Linked DNA regions of Homo sapiens. The protein of the gene in region 3 purifies or fractionates together with the protein of the main gene of each other region. This does not show direct contact. Each region holds a gene or a part of one and is shown on either strand. Other genes may lie near its edges.

Region 1 (3,500 bases), on a different chromosome or scaffold from region 3:
AATTGGAAACCGTTACAAATGGAATTGGAACAAATTTAAAGTTAAGATGGAAGAGAGAATATGTTGAGTTTTCAGAGGAAGTCGGGTACTGCTTCCTTTTCTTGTCTAGGTTTGTTCTTGTCCGATGGGATCAGAGAGATTTGAGATGGGGCATGATAGGCGGCGGGTTCAGGAGAAAGGGAAGCTTTAGAAATGAAGGTAGAAAAGATGCTTGCTTATTGGAACAGTATTTTCAACGTTGAGCTCTGGAATGTTGCAGCCAACTAATGGTTCTCATTTGGGACAGTTTTGTCCCCCACTTTTGAAGGGAGCATTTGCCAATGTCTGGAGACATTTCCCTTCCTGCAACTGTTAAATTAGCAAACAGGTTGAGCCAGCTGGGTGTGGACCTGCATTTTCCTCGTGGAGGCCCTCTTCCAAGTGTCAGTAGGAAAAGGGCTCCCAGAGTGTGGTCCTGCTGCGGGACCTTGGCCCCCACGTCCAAGTGAGCCCCAGAGGTGCCCCAAGCCCTGCCTGGTCATGGGGAATCTGGGCTCCCGCTGAACTTGGGCGCTGGGGACAGCTATGAGGGAAACCTGGTTTGCAGCTAGCTTGCCGTGCACTGACTGGAGCTTTGGGCAAATCAGTGAACTTCTCTAACATTAATTTTCTCATTGAGAGAGGAGGTGGGTAGGAGTATATATATATATATGTAATTATATATATAGGGGTCGGGTAGAGGGAGAGAGAGATTTCCCAGGCTCCTTGTATTAAAGGAGATAGAGTTATTATATTTCTCATTTAGTTTTTATTTATTTGTTTATTTTGAGACAGTGCAATTATTATAGCTAGCTGCAGCCTCAACCTTCTGGGCTTAAGCAATTCTCCTGCCTCAGCCTCCTAAGTAGCTGGGAGTACCAAATGCGCACTACCATACCTGGCAATTTTTTTATTTTTATTTTTAGTAGACACAGGCTCTCACTGTGTTGCCCAGGCTGCTCTCAAACTCCTGGGCTCCAGTGATCCTTCCTCCTTGACCTCCCCAAGTGTTGAGATTACAGGTGTGAGCCACTTTACTCAGTCGACCGACATAGAATTATTATAATGCTTGGAGCCTAACATGCCTTTTTTGTTTGTTTGTTTGTTTTTTCTGAGACGAAGTCTCTCTCACAGCCCAGGCTGGAGTGCAGTGGTGCGATCTCGGCTCACTCTGCCTCCCGGGTTCAAGCGATTCTCCTGCCTCGGCCTCCTGAGTAGCTGGGATTACAGGCATGCTCCACCACACCCGGCTGATTTTTGTATTTTTAGTAGAGGTGGGGTTTCACCATGTTGGCCAGGCTGGGCTCGAACTTCTGACCTCAGGCGACCCTCCCGCCTCGGCCTCCCAAAGTGCTGGGCTTATGGGCATGAGCCATCGCGCCCGGCTAGCCTAACATGCTTATAGTTTCCTGTTTTCTGAAGTTGGGAATTGGGTCTGGAAAGGTATCACCATCAGTCACGATGGTGTCTAGTAGTTTGCTTTGTTTTTTTCCTTATCTTTTCCCTCTTACATTTTAGGGCTGTATCTATATAATTTTATTATTTAAATTACCATATGGTAAGTTTGTCTCTTTGGGTGCATTATGAGTCTTGACACATGCATAGATTGGTGTGACCACCATCATCATCAGGAGAGAGAACAATCTCCTCAGCCCAGAGATGTTCATGGCTCTGTCTCCCACAGTTCCTCCACAGTCACCCCCCCCAGCCCCGAATCTGGGGCACCCAGCCATCTGCTCTGCTCTGGAAGTCTTGGGGATCCCATCTGAATGTAACACATGGTGGAATGCCTTAGGTGAATCCATCCGCTCTTCCAGTACCACCTTTGCCTCCTCTCTCTGATGACACATGAACTTCATGCCTTTGTGTGCTTTGGCCAACCGCTTTTCTTAGAACAGCACATTTTGCACTGTAGATGTTATCACAAGCAAGGAAAAAACAGCTTTGCTCCTTAATGTAAGAAACCACAGTGGAAAAACATCAGGTGTGTTGTTGAGGCTGCTAAAGCTTTGCTCCTTTTTAAAATTTTTTAAAAATTTTTCTGGATACGTAGGTGTATATATTTATGGGGTGCATTAGATATTTTGATATAGTCGTGCAGTGTATAATCACATCATGGAGAATGGGGGTATCCATTCCCTCAAGCACTTATTCTTTGTGTTACAAACAATCCAATTATACTCTTTTAGTTATTTGCTCTTTTTTCTTTTATTTTGAGACGGAGTCTCACTATGTCGCCCAGGGTAGAGTGCGGTGGCGCGATCTCCGCCCGCAAGTTCAAGCGATTCTCCTCCTCAGCCTCCGGAGAAGCTGGGACTAGAGGCATGTGCCACCACACCTGGCTAATTTTTTTGTATTTTTAGTAGAGATGGGTTTCACCATGTTGGTCAAGCTGGTCTCAAACTCCTGACCTCAGGTGATCCACCTGCTTAGCCTCCCAAAGTGCTGGGATTACAGGCGTAAGCCAGCACGCTCGGCCTATTTATTTCCTCTTTGTTCTATGCCAGTTAGTTCTTGATGCCTCATTGTTTCAGATGGGACATTTTCTAATGTCGTGTTTTTGTTTTTGTTTTTTTGAGACAGAATTTCATTGGTGTTTCCCAGGTTGGAGTGCAGTGGCATGATCTCTCCTCACTGCAACCTCCGCTTCCCGGGATCAAGCAATTCTCCTGCCTCAGCCTCCCGAGTAGCTGGGATTACAGGCATGCACCACCATGCCCGGCTAATTTTGTATTTTTAGTAGAGATGGCATTTCACCATGTTGGTCAGGCTGGTCTCGAACTCCTGACTTCAGATGATCCACTCGCCTCGGCCTCCCAAACTACTGGAATTACAGGTGTGAGCAACCATGCCCGACCTCTGATGTCCTTTTAGAGGATGTTACCCTCACCTTTATTGCACAGTCCTACCAAAAGGTACTTCATATGTGAAATGTATCAGAAGGTTATAGTCATGGCTTTAGTTTAAAAACAGGATACATGTTCATTAAGGACCTTTGCCGTTTTCCCAATGGGTTAATCACGTAAATATAAAATAGGCTAAAAATATCAAGTTGTTTTTGCCTTTGTTGTAGAAATAAAAAAATGAATTCCTACATCTGTGTTTCTATGGAGCTGCTAACCTGTGTTTTACTCTGGGCCATATGTCGCTTTCTGTGATCTCATGACGTGGCATGTTTTCTAATATAATCCTTGTCCTGGCATTTTGGTGACTTTTGTCCTGCCTGAGGTGGTCTACCTGGTTGTGTGAAGTCACAGAACCTGTGCATGTCCTACCGTGTAGAGTTAAAGGGCTGGATGAGTGGCCTCAAGCCTTTTCCTCCCTCCCAGGTGTGAAGATTTGGTTTGGAAGATGGACCCTGCTTCAAGGTCTGGGAGGCCATGTTTTTTTCAGACTGGTTAAGGATGACGGTTTTATGTTAACTAAACATTGGGATCAAGTGACAGTTGTTTATGTCCGGTGCCTAGAGTATCAGTTTTCCC
Region 2 (3,500 bases), on a different chromosome or scaffold from region 3:
AGCTTTTGGCCTCCGAGGGCCGCAGGAGGAAAGGACCCGAGCCCCGGGATTGCTAGGGAATGGAACGAGGGAGAACCCGTCTCCGAGTATGCTGGAGAAAGGCAGGGGAGATGTGACAATTACCACCAACAGTTTAAACAAACAAATTAATTCAGGGCAATCTTCGGCCTGCCGAGCTTGACAACTTGTCAATACACAAGTTCAACAGGTTGGACGCTCCCTCCGGCTTCCTGCGCCGCAGAGGAAGGGGCTCTCTCTCCTCCTGGAGCTGCCACCCGGCCCGGGCCGCCTCACAGCAAAACCCACTCGCACCCTGTTCCCAGGCCCCACGGTGTCCTCCAGCCCATTACCCTCGCCCCCTGCCTGGGCCTGGGGCGCCCTCGACAGGCTGCAGCGGGGGACGCAGCTCGGACCGTGCTCCAGGCCCAGGAAGCACTCTGACGTCCTGGTTCTTGCTGTTGCGCGCTTAAGAGCCTTGGGAGAGCTGGGTGTCCGAGGCACCCACGGGCGTTACCCTGCCTCTCCAGCCCCCTTTCCCTCTTTTCTGTAGAACAGAGAGAAGGCCCTGGACTCACATCGGCCCAATGGCCGTACTGATTTTGGCATCTTGGAGAATTTGCACACGGGCTGGAAATTCCGCGTTTTCGCGTCTCTGCCCTCCCTTTTTCAACACACCGCGAACTTCCAGCCTGTATGATCTCCTCCCCGTGAGACTATCCAGATTTTAAGATCCTGGGGCAGGCTAGCAGGCTTAAGGGTGGCCACGAAGGGCTGCAAAGAGGGATTAGGACCGGAGGCAGAAAATGCGCGCCGGTCCCCTGGAGAGTGGGGTCCCCCCAAGCGCTGCCTGTGTGGAGATGACTGTGGGGCGCAAGTTCCTGATGTGGGCATGGGTCTTGCCCTGGGGAATTCTAGGGGTCGCCAGCGGCTCCTGCTGAAAGACGGGAAGGATACGACTGAAAGCCCGAGGCCAATTCCCAGCATCTGGAAAGAAGCGCTCCGGGGTTGATTTACATGCATAGGAGTGCCATGTATTTTCTGTACATATAATTTACTTACTACTCAATCAACATTGGAATAAAGGGATGCACTGATTACCGTCTTTGTTCATGTTGACTTCCAAACACTTCTTCAGCCGACACGCCCTGCACTGGTTTCTGTGCGTCTTGTCCACCGGACAGCCTCCCTGGAACAGAGAGCAGGAGGTCAGCGGTCCCCAGGGCCTTTAGGCTGGAGACCCGGAGCCGGCACCCGGGCGGGGAAACGGTGTGGAGGCGCGACCTTGCCCGGCCGCAGGCCCTGGAGCCCCGAGCCTGGGCCTGCAAAACGCGAGGGCCTTGGGCATGAGCAGGGCCAGATCGAGAAGGGGCTGGGACGTCCCAGGCTACTTCAAGAGGGCCAGTCCCGGACCCCAAGAAAGCGGACAAGGGGGAAACGTCCTTCTCCAAGCAGGTGAAGCTTAGAGAGCCGGGTTTGGCAGACCCCGCAGGCCTGCGGGGCTCTCGCTAGGGGAACTTCCGCCAGTCGCGGAGTGGTGGAACAGGGACGAGACTTCAGGACCGAAGACAGCGACTTGGCCCCAGAGAAAGAGGCCACTAAGTTCCTTCCGTTAAGAGCTGGCTTTTGGGTCAGGATTCACACCATACCGCCCTCCCACCAACGATTCTTTCTGCTTTCAGTACTTGAGTCTACCTCTTTCTGCCACTTTCTGGGAGAGCCCGTTTATCTATCAGATAAATCTCTCCCATTTATTCTTCACTCTCCTATTACCTCACTTTTGCTTTTGTATGAAGCCAACCTTATTATCAGCAAGTTGAGAGTTGCCTTAAAGACTAGCCTCGGCCCAGGTGCATAGAAACACAGCCCTTCCTGGAAGGTGAGAGTTTAGGAGGGCAAGGCCTAGAGAAGATGAGGGTGAAAAAGGAAGAGCTCAAGTCTTGAGCAAAATATAGAAATGCTCACCATGTAAACAGGACCAGGAAGGTAATGTGATGGACTGTCAGACTAAATGATAATATGGGCTCAGACTGTTAGCATAGTAACTGAAAAAATAAAGGTAGTCACTTCTTTAGAAATATTTATCTGAGATGCATGAGAAATTAGATGTTTACCTAATGCAATTTTCTGTAAAAACATTAGCCATTGAAAGAGGAAATCTACAGATAAAGTTTCCTTTGGAATTTATTCAGTGTTAGATGTCATTACCGAGGGGACATATGCATAGATACATAAAGAGTCATGTGCATGAGTTTTATACACAGAAAATATTTAAGACATTGTGTGCTCTCCTATATTTATAGAAGTTGCTACTGTTAGATTTGTAGTGAGAAGAAAGATAATAAATGTATTTTTATTTTGCTTCATAATCTCAAAAATTCATATACTCTGGAGTTGGAGTAAGTATGTTTTTCTTCCCCCTGAAGCCCTTTAGGGGAAAATTACACATTCGAATGCAGTTTTATGAGTTCACACTTCTCCAATTTAAATTATGATGATTTATTTAAAATAAAGGTGGGACAGATGTTCATATCCATTTCTAAATGTCCTCATTACTGTTAATAATAAATTGGAATATAATTTAATCCTAGAATAAGAGAGAAAGGAGATAATTTTTGGGTCCAAAGTGAATTATTTAGGGCATCTTTGCTGGCCAATGTAATAGTTCATTGTAAACAGGTTTTTTAAAACTTGTTATTAAATGTAATTATATATCTATCCTCAGATGGTATCTTTCCAGTATTCTTATAAGTATGCAAATGCAAAATGGAAACCTTCATAAGTTCTTAAGTGTGTCTTCAAATCAGATCAAATGTATATAAATATCTAGCGCCAGAGAGAAGGATAAACGCCTCAGCTCTGATCATTTACTCTCCTTGCAAGAAGAACACCAGGCCTGATGAGTCTATTATCAGTCCTTTACAAGCACTTGGACTGATATCAATATGCTTGAATTGATAGCCATCCCCTTCTAAAAGATCAAGCACAACATCAGAGATCTTGATTTTCCAATTCTGTTCACTGCATAAAAGCAAAAGACAATCTAAGTAGAAGTTGGTTCAAATCTGACAACCCGCAGTAATCGCACAATCCTGTGGAGTTATTGGGATACAGTCCTATGCGTGTAAAATGTGATGTGTCCATATGGTGAAGCTAGAAACTGATACAGTAGCCAATTAAACAGGTAACAGGGCTAGAGAGCTCAAAATTTATCTCAATGCAAATATCTTCTGTTTTTGTGGTTAATCCAAAACTATTAGAAAACAATATGAGCAGACATGACTTCAGAAAAAGATGTCAGAACAATTCACTAGCAGCAGACAATATATGCATGTGTATACATGTACCCTATATATATCAATTAGTGAAAAGTGTTTTACTATTTTGTTACCAAAGGATGACTGCTGACTAATGCACCCTCAGGGATCTTTCCACAAGTGAAATGGAGGACTCTGTACTGAGGGTCTGAGTCGCTGATAAGGAGAGGGCAAAGTGTAGGACCA
Region 3 (3,500 bases):
TAATCCCAGCTACTCGGGAGGCTGAGGCAGGAGAATTGCTTGAGCCCAGGAGGCAGAGGTTGCAGTGAGCCGAGATCGTGCCACTGGACCTGGCCGACAGAGCGAGACTCTGTCTCAAAAAAAAACAAAAGAAAAGCTAGGTGTGGTAGTGCCTATAGTCCCAGCTACTCAGAACGCTGAGGTGGGAGGATCGCTTGAGCCCAGGGTGGTGGGGGCAGTGGTTGAGGCTGCAGTGAGCCATGATAGCACCACTACACACTCCACTCCAGCCTGGGTGACAGAGTGAGACCCTGTTTCAAAGAAAAAAAAAAAAAAGCTGGAGAGGAGAGGGGGCAGGTTTGTGGCAGGGTGGCTGCAGTGGCCATGGGGAGGTGTTTGGACCTGGGGGTTGGAGACAGCTCCATGAGCCCTGCTGAGGATCATGGTAGCCAGGCTGGGATCCTGGGCCCAGAGCAGTGCTGGCTGACACATAGGTCTGTGGCCCAGGTGTGGTCTACGACACGTTCATGCTAAAGCACCAGTGCATGTGCGGGAACACACACGTGCACCCTGAGCATGCTGGCCGGATCCAGAGCATCTGGTCCCGGCTGCAGGAGACAGGCCTGCTTAGCAAGTGCGAGGTAAGGGAGCCCCTCCTTCTTCTGGCTCTCAACTTAAATCCAGCCTTTGTTTCCCTGTTAGATAAGCCTCTCTTCATGCTTCTTCCTCATCCTCTCTTCAGCCCCAGACTTCGGGGCCAGTTCTCCCACCACCCCGTTCCATCCCTTGCAGCCTGTTTTCCCCCATGGTCCCCAGCTGAGTGGGGGGGATCCGGGAGTAAGGTCATGACAGAGCCAGGATCTACTTTCTGAAAATATTTGGATCTCCTGAGGCCAGGAAGTGGCTCTGTGTGCCCTGGCTATGGGGCAGAGAGGCTCTGAGAGAGCTGTGCCTTTGTGTGACCCCTCTTACTGATCCTCCTGGCAGCGGATCCGAGGTCGCAAAGCCACGCTAGATGAGATCCAGACAGTGCACTCTGAATACCACACCCTGCTCTATGGGACCAGTCCCCTCAACCGGCAGAAGCTAGACAGCAAGAAGTTGCTCGGTGAGCTGGCACATGGGTGGGCGGGCAGGCATGTTCAGTGTCAGGGTGGGATGGGGGCTCTCAGGAAGACTGCCTGACCAGGCTAGGAGGGTTGTCCCCACGGGCATAGGGCATTGCTGCGGCAGAGGTGGCACAATTATCACGTCACACACCTCCAGAGGGCGCCACTAAAATAGAGCATGCTGTGGGGCGCGGTGCAGGAGGATGGAAGTGCTCGGTTGGGGGGACTGCTTTGTTCCCCTCCTCCACGGCTTATCATGCTCCTCTCTCCCTGCCACCTGCCCCCAGAGGTAAGACGTCCCCAAGGACAGAGGACTGACAGCTTCCAACTGGTGTGGGCTGCAGAGGCCTGTCTTGTACTTGGGTCTGAGCCCTCATTTTTGGTGGCTAAGCCTGTAGCCCTGTGGCAGTTGAGGTGCCTTTTTTTTTTTTGAGACAGTCTTGCTCTGTTGGCCAGGCTGGAGTACAGTGGTGCGATCTCAGCTCACTGCGACCTCTGTCTCCCCAGGCTCAAGCAACTCTCTTGCCTGAGCCTATTGAGTAGCTGGGTTTACAGGTGTGTGCCACCACGCCCAGCTAAGTTTTGTATTTTTAGTAGAGATGGGGTTTCATCATGTTGTCCAGGCTGGTCTCGAACTCCTGACCTCAGGTGATCCGCCCGAGGCCACTTCTAGAGTAGCTCTATTCCTCTTCCATGCAGGCCCCATCAGCCAGAAGATGTATGCTGTGCTGCCTTGTGGGGGCATCGGGGTGAGTAGGGCGTACAGCAGTGGGGGTGGGCGGGCGGCTCTCCTAGGTCTGTCTCTTCCCTGCCTACCACAGCCGCTGGCCCACTGTCCAGGTGCCCTCCCCTGTTCTTGCCCTGCAGGGGGCACACTGAAACCTGCTCTCCTGCCCTGCAGGTGGACAGTGACACCGTGTGGAATGAGATGCACTCCTCCAGTGCTGTGCGCATGGCAGTGGGCTGCCTGCTGGAGCTGGCCTTCAAGGTGGCTGCAGGAGAGCTCAAGGTGAGCGTGTGCTTGTGACCTCGGTGCCCCTTGGCATGGCCCTGCTCCTCAGAGGCAGAGGACAGGGGCAGCCTTGGGATCCTTTCAGTGAGGCACTGTCCTTTGCAAGCTCAACTCTCAGGCACCAGGGTGGGAAGGAGTTGCCAGCTGGGAATTCAGGTTATGAGGGACCAACAAAAAGACACTAATGCCCAGTGCTCTCGTGGGTGTCTCGAGGCAGAAATAGTGTCTGCCTGCTCAAGCCTCATGGTTGGCATTCAAAATGGTCCGTTGAGGCTGGGCACAGTGGCTCATACCTGTAATCTCAACACTTTGGGAGGCCGAGGTGGGCAGATAGCTTGAGCCCAGGAGTTCGAGACCAGCCTGGGCAACATAGTAAAACGCTGTCTCTACAAAAAATTAACCAGGTGTGGTGGCGTGTGCTTGTAGTCCTAGCTATTCAGGAGACTGAGGTGGAAGGATTGTCTGAGCCTGGGAGGCCAAGGTTGTAGTGAGCCATGATCGCGCCACTGCACTCCAGCCTGGGTGACAAAGCAAGACTCTGTCTCCAAAAAAACCCATAAAAAAACAAAGAAACCCCAACAAAATTGTGCATTAAACATATGGATCTGCTTTTCTGGTTTGTGTTCACTTCCCTGCCTGGCTTGTGCTTCTGTCCTGTGCTACCCCCTCCACGGCCTTCCTGCCTGGATCTTGCCCCTCACCTCTGCCTGCACCTCTTCAGAATGGATTTGCCATCATCCGGCCCCCAGGACACCACGCCGAGGAATCCACAGCCATGTGAGTGCCCTAGATTCTCTGCCCTCGCCCCTTCCTGTCTCTTGCAAACGTCATGCTGAGGCTGACCTCCTGCCCTTTTCTCCCCTCCTCAGGGGATTCTGCTTCTTCAACTCTGTAGCCATCACCGCAAAACTCCTACAGCAGAAGTTGAACGTGGGCAAGGTCCTCATCGTGGACTGGGTAGGCAGTGAGCTGGTGGGGCTGGGCAGGGGCGGGTAGAGCTAGGACCAGGGTCAGCCTTCAGGAAGTCTCCTCCCCCAGCCCCACCTTCAAGCACCCCAGTCGTCCTCATCCTCGGGTGCTGGGTGTGGGTGCAGAAGGAAGGGCGCTGGGGCTCCTGCCGGATGACTAACGTCACATTCCAACAGGGCTCCCTCCTCAACTATGAAAGACATTTAGCTCCTGTTCCATCTTGGCCCTCACGTTGCAGTTTCAAGCAACGAAGGGGATTTCCTACCTTGAACGGTAGTGACGCTGCCGCCATTGCTAGTAGCCGATATTTCCTCCCACCCCCTACAATTAGGAGCAGACTGTATACCAGGAACACAATGAGTACTTTATGGCCACCTCGAGTAGTAAGAACGAGGATGTCCATTTCTGTGAACAAAGGTGTTGTTGCGTGA
Region 4 (3,500 bases), on a different chromosome or scaffold from region 3:
AATTGTAAAGGAAGAAGTCAAACTATCCTTGTTTGCAGATGATATGATGATCTTATATTTAGAAAAACCTAGACTCCACCAAAAAACTATTAGAACTGATGAATTCAGTAAAGTTTCAGGATACAAAATCAACATACAACAATTAGTAGCATTTCTATATGCCAACAGTGAACAATCTGAAAAAGAAATAAATAAAGTAATCTCACTTACAATAGCCACAGATAAAATTAAATACCCAGGAGTTAACCAAAGTGAAAGATCTCTATAATGAAAACTACAGGCTGGGCGCAGTGGCTCAGGCCTGTAATCCCAGCACTTTGGGAGGCCGAGACAGGTGGATCACTTGAGGCCAGGAGTTTGAGACCAGCCTGGCCAATATGGTGAAACCTCATCTCTACTAAAAATACAAAAATTAGCCAGGTGGTGGTGGCGCATACCTGTAATCCCAGGTACCTGGGAGGCTGAGGCATGAGAATTACTTGAACCTGGGAGGCAGACATTGCAGTGAGCCGAGATTATGCAACTGCACTCCAGCCTGGGCAATAGAATGAGACTCTGTCTCAAAAGAACAAACAAAAAAAACAAAAAACTATAAAACACTGATGAAAGAAATTGAAGAGGACACCAAAAATGGAAACATATTCCACGTTCATGGATTGGAAGAATCAATATTGTTAAAATGTCCATACTACCCAAAGCAATCTATAGATTCAATGCAATCCCTATCAAAAAACCAATGGCATTCTTCACAGAAATAGAAAAAACAATCTGAAAATGTATATGGAATCATAAAAGATTCAGAATAGCCAAAGTTATTCTGAGCAAAAATAACAAAATTAGAGAAATCACATTACCTGACTTCAAATTACAATGCTACAGAGCTATAGTAACCAAAACAGCATGGTACTGGCAAAAAAAAAAAAAAAAGACACATAGACCAGTGCAACAGAATAGAGAATCCAGAAACAAATCCACACAACTACAGCGAACTCATTTTTGACAAAGGCACCAAGAATATACATTGGGGAAAAGACAGTCCCTTCAATAAATGGTGCCGGGAAAACTGGATATCCATATGTAGAAGAATAAAACTAGACCCCTCTCTCTCACCATATACAAAAATATTTTTTAAAAAAATTTTTTTTTATTTTTTTTATTTTTTTTTAAATTTTTTTAAATATAATTAAAATGGATTAAAGCCTTAAATCTAAGACCTTGAACTATGAAACTACTACAAGAAAATATTGGGGAAACTCTCCAGGACATCAGTCTGGGCAAAAATTTCTTGAGTAATACCCCACAAGCACAGGCAACTAAAGCAAAAATGGACAAATGGGATCTCATCAAGTTAAAAAGTTTCTGCACTGCAAAGGAAACAATCAACAAAGTGAAGAAACAAGCCACAGAATGGGAGAAAATATTTGTAAACTACTCATCTGACAAGGGATTAATAACCAGAATATACAAAGAGCTCAAACAACTCTATAGGAAAAACCTTAATCTGATTTAAAACTGGGCAAAATATTTGAATAGACATTTTTCAAAAGAAGACATACAAATGGCAAACAGGCATATGAAAAGGTCCTCAACATCACTGATCATCAGAGAAATGCAAATCAAAACTACAATGTATCATCTCACCCCAGTTAAAATGGCTTATAGCAAAAAGGCAATAACAAATGCTGGGAAGCATGTGGAGAAAAGGGAACCCTTGTACACTGTTGGTGGGAATGTAAATTAGTATAACCACTATGGAGAAAAGTCTGGAGGTTCCTCAAAAAACTAAAAATAGAGCTACCATATGATCCAGCAATCCCACTGCTGGGTATATACCTAAAAAAAGGAAATCAGTATATTGAAGAGACATCTGCACTCCCATGTTTGCTGCAGCTCGGTTCACAATAGTTAAAACTTGGAAGCCACCTAAGTGTCCATCAACAGATGAATGGAAAAAAAAAAAAAACAACAGATGAATGGATAAAGAAAATGTACACACACACACAATGGAGTACTATTCAGCCAGAAAAAAAGAATGAGATTCTGTCATTTGAATGGATGATACATGGATAAAGAAAATGGATAAAGAAAATGTGGTACTTACATACAATGGAGTACTATTCAGCCATAAAAAAGAATGAGATTCTGTCATTTGCAATAAGATATATGGAACATGGAGGTCATTATGTTAAGCAAAATAAGCCAGGCACAGAAAGACAAATATTGCATGTTTTCACTTATCTGTGGGATCTAAAAATCAAAACAATTGAACTCATGGAGCCAGAGAACAGAAGGGTGGTTACCAGAGGCTGAGAAGGGTAGTGTGGGGATGGGGGGTGGGAGGATGGTTAATGATTAAAAAAAAAAAATAGAATGAATAAAACCTGGTATTTGATAGAACGGGGGACTACGGTCAATAATAATTGTACATTTAAAAATAACTAAAAGAGTATAATTGGATTGTTTCTAATACAAAGGATAAATGCTTAAGGGAAGGAATACTCCATTTTCCATGATGTGGTTATTACGCATTGCATAAGTGTAGCAAAATATTTCATGTACTGCATAAATATATACACCTGGCTGGGCGAGGTGGCTCACACCTGTAATCCCAGCACTTTGGGAGGCCGAGGCAGGCGGATCATCTGAGGTCGAGAGTTTGAGACCAGCCTGACCAACATGGAGAAACCCTGTCTCTACTAAAAATACAAAATTAGCTGGGCGTGGTGGCGCATGCCTATAGACCCAGCTACTCAGGAGGCTGAGGCAGGAGAATCGCTTAAACCCGAGGGGGCGGAGGTTGCAATGAGCCAAGATCGCGCCATTGCACTCCAGCCCAGGTGACACAGCAAGACTCCATCTGGAAAAAAAAAAAAAAATGCATACACACACACACACACACACACACACACACACACCCCTTGTACCCACAAAAAACGAAAAACAAAGATCATCCTACTTTCACCATTTTAGCTCTAATTAGTCTCTTGAGAAACTTTGTTAGTACGATATTCTCAATAATTGTTCTATTAAAGGTTCTTTTTCCAGCTGGGTGTGGCAGCTCATGCCTGTAATCCCAGCACTTTGGGAGGCCAAGGCAGGTGGATCACTTGAGGTCAGGAGTTCAAGACCAGCCTGGCCAACATGGTGAAATCCTGTCTCTACTAAAAAAATTAGCCGGGCATGGTGGCACACAACTGTAGTCCCAGCTACTTGGGAGCTGAGGCAGGAAAATCACTTTAATCCAGGAGGTGGAGGTTACGGTGAGCCAAGATTGTGCCACTGCACTCCAGCCTGGGCAACAGAGCAAGAGTCTGTCTCAAAAAAAAAAAAAAAAAAAAAAAAAGGTTATTTTCCATAGAAAAAAAAAACACTAGAAGAAAATGAAGGGAAAACTCTCCTGCACATTGGTCTCGGCAAAGATTTTATGCCTAAGACCTCAAAAGTATAGGCAATAAAAATAAACAAATGGGACTTAAACTAAAAAGTGTCTGCATAGCCAA
Region 5 (3,500 bases), on a different chromosome or scaffold from region 3:
AGTATTTGTAGTATTATTTTTAGTGAGATAATTGAAATTTTAAAATAAATACTTATGGGCAAGGACTTTAAAATGACCTTATTTAAAAAGTTTTCTCCTTTACTATTAAATTAACTGTGGGCTTTTACATTTTTTCTTAGATCGATAAAGAGGAAGTTTCACTTCGAAGAGTTATTGGTGCCAAAAAGGATCAGTATTTCTTAGACAAGAAGATGGTCACGTAAGCATTTTTCTTTTTTTTAAAAAAACTGAATATGTACTTAAATAGAGATGGGGTATTGCTGTGTTGGCCAGGTTGGTCTCGAACTCTTGGCCTCAAATGATCCACCTCGGCTTCCTAAAGTGCTAGGATTACAGACATGAGCCACCACGCCCAGCCAGCATTTTTCTTTTTCTCAATACGGAGTCTTGCTCTGTCGCCCAGGCTGGAGTGCAGTGGCGCAGTCTCGGCTCACTGCAACCTCCACCTCCCGGGTTCAAGCTATTCTGCTGCCTCAGCCTTCTGAGTAGCTGGGATTGCAGGCAGTCACCACCACACCCGGCTACTTTTTGTATTCTTAGTAGAGACGGGGTTTCACCATGTTGGCAGGCTGGTCTCGAACTCTTGACCTTGTGATCTGCCTGCCTTGGCCTCCCAAAGTGCTGGGATTAGAGGCATGAGCCACTGCGCCCAGCCCGCAATTTTATGATTTCCTTACAAAAGAGTAAAAAGTATTCTTTTACCTGCTTCATATATGAGGAATATTTGCTTCATCTTCAACAAGTCAACATATAGAGGATAAACATAAGAATCAGAAAGTTCTGAGGATGATACAGATGGTTTAATTACTGATCTTTCCTCCCTAATGCTATCAACCAAGGGGCTACTCTACTCATTGCTTAATGGTGCTTTAAAATTATTTATCGGAAAGTAATTTCATTGTTTGTCAACAGGAAAAATGATGTGATGAACCTCCTTGAAAGCGCTGGTTTTTCTCGAAGCAATCCTTATTATATTGTTAAACAAGGAAAGGTAAAACAATTGTATGTCCTTTTTAAGTAGAATTTGTTTTCTGAGTAATTCTTGAGTGATGAATTTGGTTTATTGATTTGAGTGGTTAAGCTGAAGCAAAAATGGCCATATTCTTTTACATGGCCATAAAGTACCAAATAGGTCCATTGCATGTTGAGATGGAAGTATTTCAGCATATTAAGTGGATCTTGTTTTCCTAGTGACTGGTATTACTTACTGAGGTGAAAGTATGGGAAGACATTATTGGCTTATGAATGTTGCAATAATTAAGAATATTGTAGGAATTCTATAAAAATCACATTTGAAAAACTTTCTAAAATTAATATTTTGTGTTACCTAATTATTTATCACAATTAAAATACTGAAAAGCTAACATTACCAGAAATCTGCCATTTTGCCACATGTTATTTTCCCTAATAGGGATTATGTTTTTACATTTTTTCAGCAGCCAAACTACAAACTTTTTTAGCTGATTGTTCTGCTCTCTTCTCATATACTTTCACTTTTTTTTTGGACTAGGGAAAATTCTCAAAGAATATTCACTTATTTTATACTGTAGGCCTTTTTTTCTAGATATGTATTGGAAAGTTAGCATTTAGAAGAAGTGATTAGGAAGAATATGGAGTTTCAGTTTTAGAAAATGTGTTACTGGAAGAACACGTTTTTTTCCGATTTAACTATTTGTGGGAGATAAATTTTTTTAAATGGAGGCTGATTTGAAAGAGCACTTTTCTGAGATCCGTCTGCTGTCAATCTAGGCCCTTTTACTTCATTTCAGTTTCTGCCCGTATGCCATCCTTGATTGCCTCATCTGAAAGCATTGCCGTCCCCTCAACCCTATGTGCTTTATTTCCTTAATCTGTTTTATTTTTCTTCATAACACTTACACTGTTAGGATAGTACTTATTTTCTGTCTTTTTCCATTAGAATGTAAGCTCCATGAGGGTGGGACCTTTTCTGCTTTGTTTGCTCTTTTCCAGTGCCCAGCAGTGGCACATATGTTGTAGCCATTTGAAAAATAATTTTTAAGTGAGGAAATTGCATGAACCAATATGTATAATTGGAGCGTTCAATAATGAGGATCTGAAGGATGATTCTTTGATGTAGATACTTTTGATAGACCTATTTTCGTAGAGATAATTTCAATTTTTTAATGCAGTGATATCATTTTTGACATTTAGGGATACTTGTTATATATTAAGTTGCATGGCACTTAAGTTGTACCATTCTCTCTATATTTAAAGCATACCATTTTTGTCATATCATTAGCCTTCTGTATCTGTAGGTTCCACATCTGCAAGTTCAGCCAACCATGGATCAAAAATATTTAAAATAAATAAAATTTTAAAACAGTACAATAAGAAATAATACAAATTTAAAAATACAGTAAAACTATTTACATAGCATTTACATTGTATTATTATAATTAATCTAGATATTAAAGTATATGGAAGGATGTGCATAGGTTATATGCAAATACTATGCCATTTTATATAAGGGACTTGAGCATCCTTGGATTTTGGTACCTGCAGGGGGTCCTAGAACCAATCCCCATGGAAACTGAGGAAGAATTGACTTTTAATATATTATTGTAGCTTTAAAAAAAAGTGTAGTCAGTGATGGTTTTCCCTTATAAAAATACTTTGTTTTTTGAGAATGGAGCTCATCTTTTATACCTTATCATATTGACTAAGAAAAAGATGGTGGTGTGAGATACTCCTTCACTTGTTAGCCCTATTCATAAAGGAGAGTTATGACCGTAACAGTTGTATTTGGATTTTATTTGGTAAATTTCATTTAAGTAAAGGAGACATAGATATGTAGGCATGCGTACTATACAAATGACATTAGCCAAATCATAATCTGTTTAAAACTTGGCATGTCCCAAATTCAAAAGTCTGAAATACAGAATGCTCTACAATCTGAAACCTTTCGAGTGTGGACATGACATTCAAAGGAAATGCTTGTTGGAACATTTTGGATTTCAAATTTTTGGATTTGGGTTGCTCATCTGGTAAGTATAAATGCAAATATTCCAAAACTTGAAAAAATCTAAAATCTGTAACACTTCTGGTTTCTAACCATTTTGCATAAGGGATACCCAACCTTCATGTGTATTAAAAACCTTTCAACGTGGAGTTCTTCTTCTTAAACGGAGGCTACAGCTATGTAATGATTATTTTTCTAAAAATTTTAGATCAACCAGATGGCAACAGCACCAGATTCTCAGAGATTAAAGCTATTAAGAGAAGTAGCTGGTACTAGAGTGTATGACGAACGAAAGGAAGAAAGCATCTCCTTAATGAAAGAAACAGGTAAAATAAATGTGATTCTGCCTTATTTTTTTGTTGCAAATTACTGTTTTTGTGACAGAGTGGCTCCATGATGGGAATATAGTAGGTGTTTAGTATATGACAGCATTAGATAATGCTGTTATTAATAAAAATTGAGAATCCATAACACCAATGATGTTAGTAGCTTTTAAAAA
Region 6 (3,500 bases), on a different chromosome or scaffold from region 3:
TAGCTGGGAAATACTGAGTATTTCTAGAAGGCTCAAGGTTTAAAAAATAATTAAAGAGGTTGACTAAGAGGAAGAAACAGTGAGCTGACATGAATGGAGCAGGTGAGTCTGAGAGAGAACTGTTTGGGGTCTCTTTCTCTTAGAAATCAGTAGCAGAGGCCATGCTTGGTGGCTCACACCTGTAACCCCAGCACTTTGGGAGGCCGAGGCTGGCGGATCACTTGAGGCTAGAGTCTGAGACCAACCTGGCTAACATGGCAAAACCCATCTCCATTAAAAATAGCAAAATTAGCCAGGTATGTGGTGCACGTCTGTAGTCCCAGCTACTCGGGAGGCTGAGGCTTGAGAATCGCTTGAACCTGGGAAGTGGAGGTTGCAGTGAGCCAAGATCATGCCACTGCACTCCAGCCTGGGAGACAGAGCGAGACTCCCTCTCTCTCTCAAAAAAAAAAAAAAAAAAGAAAAAGAAAAAGAAACCAGCATCAGAAAATGTTTAGCCCTAGCCTAAAGGAAACATGATCACAAACTACAGGAAACTGAAGAGAAAACTGCCTATCCACCTCCCTCAAAAAAAGAGATTAGGAGCCTAAAAAAATTCTAAAAATACATGTAAAGCCACAGAGTCCAAATTGCAAAAATATTGCTCAAAAGACCATAAATGGGTTAAAAATAGGAAGCATGGGAGAAAAATAAATTTGTCAGCTAAAAATGTATAAAAGCTCTCTTTCCACAAATAACATTTCTAAAATAAATGTTTACTAAGCAGAGCCCCAAATACATGCCAAGCATAAAGGACAGAAAGCTATCTGCTCTTGCCTCCTGAACTCTGCACATCATGTTTCCTCCTCTACTGGAGTCAAAGACTCATCCACCCTTCAACAGATTGCTACCTATCCCTCACACCTAACGTTCGGTTAGGTCATATCTCAGCTTAGAGATCACTTCCTAGAGAAAATCCTTCCCTGACCTGGGTTAAAAGGGCTAGAGGATAAATTGGTGCTCCTCCACTAGGCTGGCGCAGAATTATTTCATTCACTCATACAACCGTACAGAGAAGGTATTACATACTGTGTATTCTTACATACCCTAAAAACACAGTAATGAAGATTACAGACTAGTTAGCCGCTCTCATAGAAATGGACATTAAGGCTGGGCGCAGTGGCTCACACCTGTAATCCCAGCACTTTGGGAGGCTGAGGCGGGTGGATCACCTGAGGTCGGGAGTTCAAGACCAGCCTGACCAACATGCAGAAACCCTGTCTCTACTAAAAATACAAAATTAGCTGGGCATGGTAGCACACGCCTGTAATCCTAGCTACTCGGGAGGCTGAGGCAGGCGAATCGCTTGAACCCAGGAGAGTGAGGCTGCAGTGAGCTGAGATTGTGCCATTGCACTCCAGCCTGGGCAACAAGAGTGAAACTCCATCTCAAAAAAAAAAAAAAAAAAAAAAAGGACATTAAACAACAATAATTACACAATTATACATCATTGTTGGGGGAAGGATAGTGTTGGAAACATACACCCAGATACACACATCCACTCTAGGATTTCTGATCCAGACTGAAAAGATCAGGGAGTTTCTCTGAAAAGTGCTTCCTACAACCCAATGTGCTAGGCTTTTGGGATGCAACAGTGAAAAACACTGAGACTATCTCTAAATTCAGAGCTGGCACCAGGACACTCAACTAATGTAGTGCCTGGTGGATGGATACACCAGCCTGTGGATGGATACAGCTGCCTGTGTCCTTGGCAGTACGTAAGAAGACACGATTTGTGCAGAGTCTACCACAGGCACCCACATTTCACCCCTACCTAGGTGAGCATGCAGTTAATAAACGTTGCATGATCTCTTCTTTGCCTTAAAGAAACTCAATCTAGGGAAGGAAAAAAGGGCTTTGCTACATTTTCTGTAATGAGAAGTTCCATATCAAATTAAGATTACTGTTGGCCAGGTGCAGTGGCCTCTAATCCCAGCACTTTGGGAGGCTGAGGCGGGCAGATATTTGAGGTCAGGAGTTTGAGACCAGCCTGGCCAATATGGCAAAACCCTGTCTCTACTAAAAATACAAAAATTAACCGGGCATGGTGGAGTGCACCTGTAATCCCAGTTACTCGGGAGGCTGAGGCAGGAGAATCGCTTGAACCCAGGAGGGAGAGGTGGCAGTGAGCTGAGATCAAGCCACTGCACTTCAGCCTGGGCAACAGAGCAAGGCTCCATCTCAAAAAAAAAAAAAAAAAAAAAAAAAAATTATTGTTAGTAGTAAACAAGATAATGTTTTTCATTTTGAAATATCTAAACTAACTTACTACTTGGTAAACATTATCTGGTTCATAGACTGTATAACCTGAAGTATAACTCAGAGTGCTCACCCTTACAATCTGAGATTGGATACCTGTAGTCTGCACACCAGGGAAACAGCCTACCTTTCATAATATATTCATTTTCTGAAGAGCCAGGAAGTGTGAGAGCTTTGAAAAGGTTTGTTAGCAGAATCTCAACAAACGGTGCGATTTCTGCAGCTGTAAAGCTATAGATGAAAAAACAGCTTTCAGTCACTACCAACTCTTGAGCTTGTCACTGCAGATTACCCTTGGCAACCACTATGTCACCCTTCTCAGCATAAAACTGAGCCATCTCCCACCACTGACAATTGATAGACAGTTTAGGAAAATAATTTTTTTACATGTGCTCATGTTAGGCTCCTAAGAAGGCACATCGAGAACCAAACACAACTGAACCAAAAAGCCAGCTAAACCCAACAACATCTGAAGTTGAAACAGTTGTCCCTGGTTTATATCTATTACCACTGAGAAAGAACTCAGAATCTCAGGGGACTCTGTCATTTATTTTGTTTTTGGAGGTGGAGCCAAGATTCAGAACTGTTTTCTGCATAAATTCTGGGCCTGAAGATAGGTACTGGCTTGACTCACCTCAAAGGATGTCCTTTCTACCCTTAATTGGCCACTGAGAGTATCTGTACTTCAAGTTCTTGATGAAGGAAAGAACCTAGAACTGTTTTCCATCTCTTACCCAAAGCTCATTTCAAGAAATAATACTGTTGAATAGTGGCCTGAAAGACATGCAGACCATCCATTCCTCTACATTTCATCCTGGTTCAGGCCAGAAGACCTATTTTCTTGGTCCCCAGTGAATTACTTTCATTCGGTTAGGTCATATCTCAGAAATAAGTGACCTTACGCAAATAGCCACATGAAAATAACTGTTACATGATTGTTGCTGAGAACACTACTACTACTATTGTACAGTATTCTCTGCTTTAACTTTTATCTCATAGACCCTGTGAAAATTTTAACTTCCCAAGTTTCCCTCTTTGCCCTGGCTGCTAAGAGACTCCAAATAAAATTTGGAGTTTCTTGGACTACTATATAGGATCCTTTGACACACATTTCTGTTTATTAACTTTATCTCAGTTACTTTCCTTGGCTCCAGTTTATTAAATTGTATTGTCATAATGCACCTATTTTAGTAAGCAGCCTC
Region 7 (2,649 bases), on a different chromosome or scaffold from region 3:
TTCCTTGGCCTCCCAAAGTGCTGAGATTGCAGGCATGAGCCACCACGCCCCAATCATGTATATTTTGAGGCTATTAAAAAAAATCTGCATTATTCAAAAGAGGAAACAGCGACCCATTGGAGGTGGCAGAGGTATAGCAGCAGCTAGCATTTATTGTGCACCAACTGAATGCCAAATATTGTCCTGTGGGCTTTGGATGGTTTAATTCACTAACCATCATGGCAGTCCTCTGAGATAGGTGCTCTTCTGCTCTTCTTCCTATAGATGGGGAAACTGAGGCACAGAGGGGGGAAGTCACCTGCCCAGGGTTGCTCAGCTAGTGAGCCAAGGAGCCTGGATTCAAACCAGCATCCAGCTTTCTCTGGAATACCATGGAGGGTGGTGTGGTGGGGATGCTGGGGTGGGTGCGGCTCCATCACCTGGTGGAGCCTCCATCCCTTGCCCTCTGCAGGTGAAGCTGTGTGACTTTGGCTTTGCTCGCATCATCGGCGAGAAGTCGTTCCGCCGCTCAGTGGTGGGCACGCCGGCCTACCTGGCACCCGAGGTGCTGCTCAACCAGGGCTACAACCGCTCGCTGGACATGTGGTCAGTGGGCGTGATCATGTACGTCAGCCTCAGCGGCACCTTCCCTTTCAACGAGGATGAGGACATCAATGACCAGATCCAGAACGCCGCCTTCATGTACCCGGCCAGCCCCTGGAGCCACATCTCAGCTGGAGGTGCCTGGGGCCCGCCTACCCCATGGGCGGGTGGGTTGTGGGGTGGGGCTGGAGAAGTGGGCGGAGCCATGAGAGGGGGGTGGACCCGGAAACAGCCTGGCACCTTGGGGGTGGAGCCCAGTGCTGGGGCGGGCCTACTGGAGGGATGTGGCTACAGGAGGAGCCGTCCTGTAAAAGATGGGCTGGGACTCAGGCCTAGACTAGGTTACTTGGGCTGGAAACCAAGTGCCCCAGAAGCGCTGAGGACACTTGGAACCTTAGGGGGGCTGAGTGAGACTTGGCTTGTCTAGGGTGGGACCAGGAAAGGGACTGGACTTGAGGGTACCAAAGGGCTGCGGTGACCAGGAGAAGGGGCTGAGCCTCCCAAGGCATTGGCTGGGACCTGGAGCCTTTGGGTTTACGACCCCAAAAGGGTCAGCCTTGCAAAAAGGAGGCACCGGTGGGTAGGGTTGAGAAACAAGGGCATGGCTACTTTGCTGTGTACTGGGGCCGTGACTTGGGTGAAGATGGGCCTGAAGCCTGGGGTCGGTTCAGTGACCAAGGGAGCCAGTCTAGGGACGTGGCCGTGGAGGGTTTCCGAAGAGGTCCAGGAACAGGGCTGACCCTGAGTCCTGGAAGCTGGGAGTGGATGGGAGTGGGGAGGAGAAGGGAGCCAGGACTGAGGCAGACATTGCACTCTGCATTCTGGGGCTTTGGTGTTGTGGCTGGGCCTGATGAAGTGGCACCGGGCCTGGTGACTTGAACCTACTTGGGAATGGGTCTGTAACTTTCCCTGCTTGGAAAAGTTAAGTCCTAAGGCCTGGAGCTTTGAGGCTGGGTGTGGGATGGCATGTTTAGAGGGCCAGAGGCAGGGCTAAGATACTGGGGTGTGTCAGAAGCCAGGAGAACAAGGGACCTGTGTTGGAGCCAGGGAGCTCAGGAAGACAGATGGAGTATGGGAAGGGGGGGGATCATTCATTCATTTATTTATAACCATTTATTCAACAAGTACATTCATGTATTTGTAACCATTGATTCAACATGTTGAGTGCCCACGATGTGCCAGGCATTGACTGTTCCAGCTCTGGGAATACTGTGATGACTTGGACAGAAGGGGTCAGGTGCAGGGTAGCTCATTGAGTGGTCCGCGAAGGGTGGAAAGGGGAAGGGTCCTCTCTGGAGGGTGCGGCTTCATGGAGCAGGTGGAGCAGGGTGACACGGAGGTTGCTCGGTGCAGGACAAGACAAGGTCTTGGTGGTGGTCTAAGAGCATGGGCCCTAAGCAGTGAGAATGTGGATTGACTTGAGTCCTGGAGTAATATTGGGGGTGCTCAACACTGGCTTTTTTTTTTTTTTTGAGGTGGGGTCTCGCTCTTTCACCCACGCTGGAGTGCAGTGGCGTGATCTCGGCTCACTGCAACCTCCACCTCTTGGGTTCAAGGGATTCTCCTGCCTCAGCCTCCCGAGTAACTGGGATTACAGGCACACAGCACCATGCCTGGCTCATGTTTTATATTTTTAGTAGAGACAGGGTTTCGCCATGTTAGCCAGGCTGGTCTTGAACTCCTGACCTCAAGTTATTTGCCCGCTTCAGCCTCCCAAAGTGCTGGGATTGCAGGCATAAGCCATCACACCCCGCCAGCATTGTCTTTTGAGACCCACTCAGAAGTCCCTCAGTAAAAGTGCATCGAGTGTGCACAAGTGAATTTAAGTGTGGTTGCACCTGTGTGAGGATCACAGAATCCTGTGGGTGTTGACGGGAGCAGGGTGCCTGTGTGCACCAGGCCTCTCCTCGGATGGGTTCATACAGTGAAGCCTTGTCCTTCATGGCTTCCCATCAAGGAGAGAGCCTCGGATGAGTGCTGGCTTGTCTTGAAGCTTGACATTCGCTAGTCCTCTTTTTCACAATGAACAGGCCTATCTCTGAGCCTTCTGCAGGCAATGGTGACTAA

Evidence for each region.
Region 1: the proteins of HDAC5 (region 3) and TBL1X purify together in Homo sapiens (affinity purification with mass spectrometry; 3 studies listed by BioGRID and IntAct, with this or other methods). This does not show direct contact.
Region 2: the proteins of HDAC5 (region 3) and NR2E1 purify together in Homo sapiens (affinity purification with western blotting; 2 studies listed by BioGRID). This does not show direct contact.
Region 4: the proteins of HDAC5 (region 3) and APPL1 purify together in Homo sapiens (affinity purification with mass spectrometry; one large-scale study listed by BioGRID and IntAct). This does not show direct contact.
Region 5: the proteins of HDAC5 (region 3) and SMC3 purify together in Homo sapiens (affinity purification with mass spectrometry, with the first as the bait; one study listed by BioGRID). This does not show direct contact.
Region 6: the proteins of HDAC5 (region 3) and CSE1L purify together in Homo sapiens (affinity purification with mass spectrometry, with the first as the bait; one study listed by BioGRID). This does not show direct contact.
Region 7: the proteins of HDAC5 (region 3) and PRKD2 purify together in Homo sapiens (affinity purification with western blotting; 2 studies listed by BioGRID, with this or other methods). This does not show direct contact.

The regions. Positions count from the first base shown.
Region 1 is NC_000023.11:9,468,058-9,471,557, forward strand, and holds part of TBL1X (F-box-like/WD repeat-containing protein TBL1X), read left to right. Parts: intron 1-3,500. UniProt on the Homo sapiens protein: F-box-like protein involved in the recruitment of the ubiquitin/19S proteasome complex to nuclear receptor-regulated transcription units. Plays an essential role in transcription activation mediated by nuclear receptors.
Region 2 is NC_000006.12:108,172,522-108,176,021, reverse strand, and holds part of NR2E1 (nuclear receptor subfamily 2 group E member 1), read right to left. Parts: intron 1,187-3,500; coding exon 1,099-1,186; intron 1-1,098. UniProt on the Homo sapiens protein: Orphan receptor that binds DNA as a monomer to hormone response elements (HRE) containing an extended core motif half-site sequence 5'-AAGGTCA-3' in which the 5' flanking nucleotides participate in determining receptor specificity.
Region 3 is NC_000017.11:44,082,142-44,085,641, reverse strand, and holds part of HDAC5 (histone deacetylase 5), read left to right. Parts: intron 1-486; coding exon 487-620; intron 621-966; coding exon 967-1,087; intron 1,088-1,787; coding exon 1,788-1,837; intron 1,838-1,989; coding exon 1,990-2,097; intron 2,098-2,821; coding exon 2,822-2,877; intron 2,878-2,969; coding exon 2,970-3,057; intron 3,058-3,500. UniProt on the Homo sapiens protein: Responsible for the deacetylation of lysine residues on the N-terminal part of the core histones (H2A, H2B, H3 and H4).
Region 4 is NC_000003.12:57,262,229-57,265,728, reverse strand, and holds part of APPL1 (DCC-interacting protein 13-alpha), read right to left. Parts: intron 1-3,500. UniProt on the Homo sapiens protein: Multifunctional adapter protein that binds to various membrane receptors, nuclear factors and signaling proteins to regulate many processes, such as cell proliferation, immune response, endosomal trafficking and cell metabolism.
Region 5 is NC_000010.11:110,577,695-110,581,194, forward strand, and holds part of SMC3 (structural maintenance of chromosomes protein 3), read left to right. Parts: intron 1-140; coding exon 141-220; intron 221-933; coding exon 934-1,012; intron 1,013-3,209; coding exon 3,210-3,327; intron 3,328-3,500. UniProt on the Homo sapiens protein: Central component of cohesin, a complex required for chromosome cohesion during the cell cycle. The cohesin complex may form a large proteinaceous ring within which sister chromatids can be trapped.
Region 6 is NC_000020.11:49,084,312-49,087,811, reverse strand, and holds part of CSE1L (exportin-2), read right to left. Parts: intron 2,530-3,500; coding exon 2,426-2,529; intron 1-2,425. UniProt on the Homo sapiens protein: Export receptor for importin-alpha. Mediates importin-alpha re-export from the nucleus to the cytoplasm after import substrates (cargos) have been released into the nucleoplasm.
Region 7 is NC_000019.10:46,676,466-46,679,114, reverse strand, and holds part of PRKD2 (serine/threonine-protein kinase D2), read left to right. Parts: intron 1-451; coding exon 452-719; intron 720-1,658; exon of another isoform or gene 1,659-1,975; intron 1,976-2,649.